2 linked regions of the Homo sapiens genome follow. The protein of the gene in region 2 purifies or fractionates together with the protein of the main gene of each other region. This does not show direct contact. Each region holds a gene or a part of one and is shown on either strand. Other genes may lie near its edges.

What was found. Proteins that work in one complex are often made in the same cells at the same time.
Region 1: the proteins of SORT1 (region 2) and TMEM9 purify together in Homo sapiens (affinity purification with mass spectrometry; one large-scale study listed by BioGRID and IntAct). This does not show direct contact.

The regions. Positions count from the first base shown.
Region 1 is NC_000001.11:201,137,475-201,140,974, forward strand, and holds part of TMEM9 (proton-transporting V-type ATPase complex assembly regulator TMEM9 isoform a precursor), read right to left. Parts: intron 1-3,500. UniProt on the Homo sapiens protein: Transmembrane protein that binds to and facilitates the assembly of lysosomal proton-transporting V-type ATPase (v-ATPase), resulting in enhanced lysosomal acidification and trafficking.
Region 2 is NC_000001.11:109,328,419-109,331,918, reverse strand, and holds part of SORT1 (sortilin isoform 1 preproprotein), read left to right. Parts: intron 1-3,500.

The DNA.
Region 1 (3,500 bases), about 92 Mb from region 2:
CACACACACACACACACACACACACACACACACACACACACAGAGTGAAAAGAAGTTTCATAAAACAATACTTAGTGTAATGCATTCTGATATTCTTTGCTCTGTTCCATTCCATTTTTTTAAAAATCCTGGTCATGACTCACAGAATTCATTTCATGACCTAATGGCTTGCTTGAAATACACTGGTTTAAGATTAGTAGATGGGTATGGCAAAGTTAAATAACACACATATAAAGCACTTACTATCCTGGCTGTCACAGAGCTAGGGCTCAAGAAATGTTTGGTTTCTTTCTTCCCTAGGAGCGATGACTAATATCAGAGCCTAGCTCTGGAAGCCACTAGGCAGTAAGGCTGGCGGCTGGCTGCCAGGAGAAAGCCTGTGAAAACTGCCATGGCTGCTGCCCCTCCTTCCAGTTCCATGCCTTCCCTGTTCACTGTGCTGACTGAGCTGGCCACAGTGCTAAGACCAAGCCTCCACCCAGTCCTGCCTCAGTGTGGCCGTCTACATGAGGTGGGCACTAAAGACCCATCTGGGAAGCTATTGGCCCACCGGGACTTGGCTCTGGGGGCTGGATTGCCTTCTCTTCTTCTTTCCATTCCCAATCTCATCCTTTCTGGGACCATCTTTCTCATGACAGGGCTCCAGTGTGTGTGTGGGGTGGGGTGCTACGCTTGGAAGGGTGGGGCAGCTTTAGCCCTGCCCTCCTTCCACTGCTCTGTATCTCAGGGGAGCGTCTTGAGAAGGGGAAGCCAGGGAGAGCCCAGAGCACAGCATTAAGGGAACATGCTGAAATTCACCACATTACCACAGTATCATTTGTTTTCCCTTCATGTAAAGTCTTAACAAACAGCTCCTAAGTGGGGGAAAGCTGCCACTGAGAGGCTGAGTTTCCATCGCTAATAGTCTGATTAAAAGGTATTAAAGACTCCACATCTGTTTCAGAGACAGCCCAGAGTGGGGCCTCATCCTTGCTTGCTCTGCAGCAAGTATGGTGGGTGGAAGTGGGAGAAATGCCACCAGTTCCTCCCCTCTCCCTCTGAGGCTGGGCCTCCGGTTAACTCGGGAGCAGAAGGGCAGTTAGGAGGGGAGGCGGGTGGAGCCCCTCCCAATCAGAAAAAGAGCTTGGACATGGATGGATTCCCAGGAGGTCCCCAGGGGGACCAGACCAGTGTGACTATGACAAGTGCCACTATGTGCCAGGCGCTCTGCTAGGCACTTTACACAGATTATTCCCAGGCTTACAACACTGGCAAATGGGTAAAACCATCCCCTATTGTAGCTGCAGAAACTGAGGCTCTGAAAGATGAATCATCTTGCTGCCCAAGGCTGCATGGCTGTTTAGTGGCCAAGTCGGAATTTGAACCCATGTACGTATATCTCTTATCCTAGGACCCAGCTGGATCCTTCTTTGGCTGGTTTCTCCTAAGAGGGAGCCAGCATGGACAACCAAAGAGACAGGCTGGTATATTTCCCCACAGCTAGAGCAAGAACAGAGCACTTCTAAAGGAACCAATGCTCAGGACATCAAGCGAGGCCCTCTTCTCCACACTGGAAGGACCCAAGTAACTGTGTGGATAAGCCCCAGCTGATCAAACTAGCCCTGAGCCCTTCAGGCCGTCCCAGATGAAACCCTCTTCAGTCTGCCCAGAAGCACTGGTTCTGAGCTGGCACTGGACTTGGCCAAAGCCTGATGACAAGGAGACAGGGAGAGTGAGAACCCCACCTCAGGCGGCTCTCCTCTCTCTGGCTGCTCCTCCTCCCTCCTCCCCAATCCCAGGCACAGGAGCATGACCAGGTGGTCTCATCACTTACCAGCCACTCAGCAAAGCATGGTCCTAGTGCAAAGCCCTTCAGCAAGAGGACTATACAGCCTCTCTGAGTTTTCCATGTTTGACCCAAGTCCTTGCTGCTGTTGCTGAGTCCCACTGCACCTCTGCTGCGAGGCTCTCCCTGACCCCTGCACGCTGCGGCTAGGGCCACCTTCCTATGACACACCAACTCATGCTGTTTCCCTGCCCAAAAACCCCAGCTGGGACCCACCTGCTCACAAATAAAACCCTGCTGGGCCTGACATTCAAGGGCACTCCCAGCCTCACCTCCCCCCTTACCCCCCAGCCCAGCCTCTGGCCACACTGGTCCATGCATCCTCTGTCTACCTGCGGTGATCCTCACTCAGGCCCTTGTGCACGCTGCCCCTCAGGCTTCCCTCCAGCAATCATGATGCTACTTAAGTATTAACACCTGATTGAAATAGCGCATTCTTAAGGACGAGCAAACACTTGTAAAGCTTCCATACACACGATCGCAACAGTTATGCTGAGGTAAACATGATTATGTGTATTCCAGACTTAGAAAACTAAACCAGGAGGTTAGCACCAAGGATAGTAAATGGCAGGGCTCGGCCCCTCCCAGGACTGTGATTAACCACAATGCTGTGCTGCCCCACTGGAGGCTCTAGAAGCGTCTGTTGAACCGCACATCTTTCTATTCTGCCCTCAGGGGAGGAGGCCGACTGGATTGCCCTCATCAGTGTGTCTGTTCCGTGTTTCACTGTCAGCTTCCCAGGGCTGGGGTCCTCAGAACACAGCTGCCACCCATGTGCAGACAGGAGGGGAGACTGCTCCTCAGTGGCCCGAGTCTTCTCCCCGGTGCCTGCATGTTCCAGTTCCCATCATCATCATCACCTTTCCTTGATTTCCCTGTATACTCTCTCCCAAAGGGGGCCCAGAACTCTACCCACTGCCCCAGCAGGGTGAGCACTTTGAAGACCTCTCCAGAGCTTGGGCCCATGCTGTGAGCAGCGACATCCCCAGCCTCAGAGAAACCATGTGTCTCTCTTCAAAGAGGGCCCAACCTGCACATCTAAAACAGCTCTGTTTGCCGTTTCTGCCCCAGCAAACATGCTTGCTTCCTCCTTTCAAAGGACGTCTGAGCCCAGGGATTATGCCTAATGCTGCTGGAATCCCAGGGGAGGCAGCGCCCAGCAATCAGGGCCTACTGAGGCTCTGCCAGCGCTTTCAAAGGGAACATGACAAGCTTTCATCTCCCTCCATGAACGGGGCTGAGGCTGAGGGGGAGGCCTCCTCTTCCTCTTCCAGTTCTTTACCCCCTGGGCAGGAGAGCTCCTGGTCACAGGAATTGGGGAGAAGGAACCAAGGGGTCCCTAACCCTGAAAAAATGCCCTGACCTCCAGATCTCACCCCTAACTGGGTCCCAGACTTCTGGGGCGTAGGGCCTGAAAGCTCCTGGAGCCTAGACAGAATTTTCCTTCTAAAGTCATCGAGTTGTACAGGCCTAGGCGAACTTTCAAGGAACCCAAGAGGCCATGTCCTGACTTTGTTCCTCTTGGGGTGAAACCCAGAGACATGGCTACAGCCTAGGTGCTGCTGCCGCTCAGCTGAATGCCTGCCCCCCAGCCCCATGTTTCCCCACATCCCTTTCCTCTGTGCACTGAGAGGGGCAGTAGATTATCCCTCGTCGTCCAGGACTAGGGCCCCCA
Region 2 (3,500 bases):
GATGAAATTTTCTTGATTTCTTTTTTGGATAGTTTGTTGTTAGTGTATATTGTATTTTTATATGTTGATTTTATATTCTGCAACTTTTTTGAATTTATTAGTTTTAACATTTTTGGTGGAGTCTTTAAAGATTAAGGATTTTTATATATAAGCTCATGTCACCTGCAGACAGACAATTTTACCTCTTTCTTTCTGGTTTGGATGCTTTTTGTTTTTATTTCTTTTTCTTACTTAATTGCTCCAGCTAGGACTTCCATTACTATAATGAACAGAAGTGGTGAGAATGGGCATCTTTGTCTTATTCCTGATCTTAGAGGAAAAGGTTTAGCTTTTGACTGTTTGAGTATGATGTTAGCTGTGGGCTTGTCACATATAGCCTTTATTATGTTGAGGTATATCCCTTTTATACCTAATTTATTGAGAGTTTTTATCATGAATGGGTTTATTATGTTGAGGTATATCCCTTTTATACCTAATTTATTGAGAGTTTTTATCATGAATGGGTGTTGAAATTTGTTAAGTGCTTTTTCTGGATTTATCAAGATGATATGATTTCTATCCTTCATTCTATTAATGTGGCATATCTCATTTATTGATTTGCATATGTTGAACCATCCTTGCATTCCACAGATAGATCCTACTTGATCATGGTATATAATCTGTTTAATATGCTGTTGAATTCAGTTTGTTAGTATTTTGTTGAGAATTTTTGCATCTATGTTCATCAGAGATATTGACCTGTAATTTTGTTTTCTTCTAGTGTCCTTGTCTGGTTTTGGTAGCAGGGTAATACCACCCTTATAAAATGAGTTTGGAAGTGTTCCATTCTCTTCAATTTTTGGAAGAGTTTGAGAAGGATCGGTCTTAATTCTTCTTTGAAGAAAGTTTGCTAGAATTCACCATTGAATCCATCAGGTCCTAGGCTTTTCTTGTTGGGAGGTTTTTGATTACTGATTGAGCCTCCTTACTCATATTAGTATGTTCAGATTTTCTATTTCTTCTTCATGATACAGTCTTGGTAAGCTGTATATGTCTAGAAATTCATCCATTTTTTTCTAGATTATCCAATTTGTTGATGTATAGTTGTTCATAGTAGTCTCTTAGGATCCTTTGTTTTTTCTGTAGTATAAGTTATAATGTCTCCTCTTACATTTCTGATTTTACTTGAGTCTTTTCTTTTTTTCTTATTCTAATTAAAAGTTTGTCACTTTTTTATCTTGTCAAAAAAAACAACTCTAAGTTTCATTGATCTTTCCTGTTATTTTTCTAACTTCTATTTCAGTTATTTCTGCTCTGTTATTATTTCCTCCCTTCTGCTAACTTTGGGCTTAGTTTGTTCTTTTTCTAGTTCCTTGAGGTATAAAGTTAAGATTTTTGAGATTTTTCTTTTTTCTTAATGTAGACATTTATCACCATAAACTTTCTTCTTAGAACTGCTTTTGCTGCATCCCTTAAGTTTTAATATGTTGTGTTTCCCTTTTCATTTGTCTCAAGTTTTTTTTATTTCCCTTTGACTCATTGGTTGTTCAAGAATATGTTGTTCAATTTCCACATTCATGTGAATTTTCCAATTTTCCTCCCTTTACTGATTCTAGTTTCATAATGTTGTAGTTGAAAAGAACTTGAGGCCAGGCACACTGGCTCACGCCTATAATCCTTGCACTTTGGGAGGCTGAGGTGGGTGGATCACGAGGTCAGGAGTTCAAGACCAGCCTGGCCGACTTGGTCTCTACTAAAAATACAAAAAAAAAATAGCTGGGCGTGGCAGCGGGTGCCTTTAATCCCAGCTACTCAGGAGGCTGAGGCAGAGAATTGTTTGAACCCGGGAGGCGGAGCTTGCAGTGAGCCAAGATCACGCCACTGCACTCCAGCCCAGGTGACAGAGTGAGACTCCGTCTCAAAAAAAAAAGAAAGGATACTTGAGGTGATTTCAGTCTTACATTTGTTAAGGCTTGTTTTGTGGCCTAACATATGCACTATCCTGGAGAATATTCTCTGTGCACTTGAAAAGAATGTATATTCTGCTGCTATTGGATAGAATGTTCTGTATATGTCTGTTAGGTCCATTTGTATGGTGTTGTTCAAGTTTGCTCTTTCCTTACTGGTTTTCTGTCTGGATGATCTATCATTGAAAGTAAGTATTGAAGTCCCTTACTATTATTGTATTGTCGTCTACCTCTTTCTTCAGTTCTGTTAATGTTTGCTTTATACATTTAGGTGCTCTAATGTTGAGTGCATTTATATTTACCAATGTTATATGCTCTTGATGAATTGACACCTTTATCATTGTGTGGTAACTTTCTTTATCCCTTGTGATAGTTTTTTACTTAAAGTCTATTTTGTCTGATATAAATATAGCCACCCCCGGCTGGACATGGTGGCTCACGCCTGTAATCCCAGCTCTTTGGGAGACCAAGGCGGGCGGATCACGAGGTCAGGAAATCAAGACCGTCCTCACTAACATGGTGAAACCCTGTCTCTACTAAAAATACAAAAAATTAGCCGGGTGTGGTGGCAGGCGCCTGTAGTCCCAGCTACTTGGGAGGCTGAGGCAGGAGAATGGCATGAACCCAGGAGGCAGAGCTTGCAGTGAGCTGAGATGGCACCACCGCACTCCAGCCTGGGTGGCAGAGCGACACTCCGTCTCAAAAATAAATAAATAAATATAGCCACCCCTGCTCTCTTTTGGCTACCATTTGAGTGGAATATCTTTTTTTTATCTCTACTTTTAGCCTATGTGTCCTCTTACACACATAGGCCTTTACAGATGGCTTCAGCAGGGGAAGCCCTTACCAGGTAGCTCATCCAGAGATTCTTGGGGGGGCAACTGACAGGTTCTGCAGGTAGGTGGGCCTGGTGCCTTGGTCTTTGGGGGTAGCTTGGAGGCTGGGTCCTCTGCGGCAGGCCTGGCAGTGGAATCCACTAGGGTGGACCTTTTAAGTGGGTCTTCAGGTGAAACACCTGGAGCCCGGTAAGTAGATCTGCAGGAGCCAGCCTGGTGCAGGGGTGGGCCCTACCCTGAGCCTGCAGGGGCTGGCCTGATGCAGGGGTCCACTTGGCTGGGTCTGTGAGAGTGGACCTGGAGCCTTTAAGTTTCTTAAAGACAAGACTGGATCTTATTTCGAACCACCATCACATCTTGTACGGTGTCTGAAGTATATCAGGTGCTTATCAAGTTTATTTGTGTAGAGTCAGCCTTTAAACATTGTTCAGAGGCTTTGATGTAATGCAAAAATAAAATAAACGGAGACAGGTTACCCATGAGGAAATATTTGCTTCCAGATATTGTAGTACATTTCAGAATCAAGAGTATGCCACTGAGCTACAACTCAACAACAAACAAATAGCCTGAATAAAAAATAGGCAAAGAACTTGTATAGACATTTCTCCAAACACAATATAGAAGTGACTAACAAGCATATAAAAAGAGGCTCAGCATCACTAATCATTAGGAAAATGCAAGTCAAAACCACAATGAGGTATCTCCTCACACAGATTAG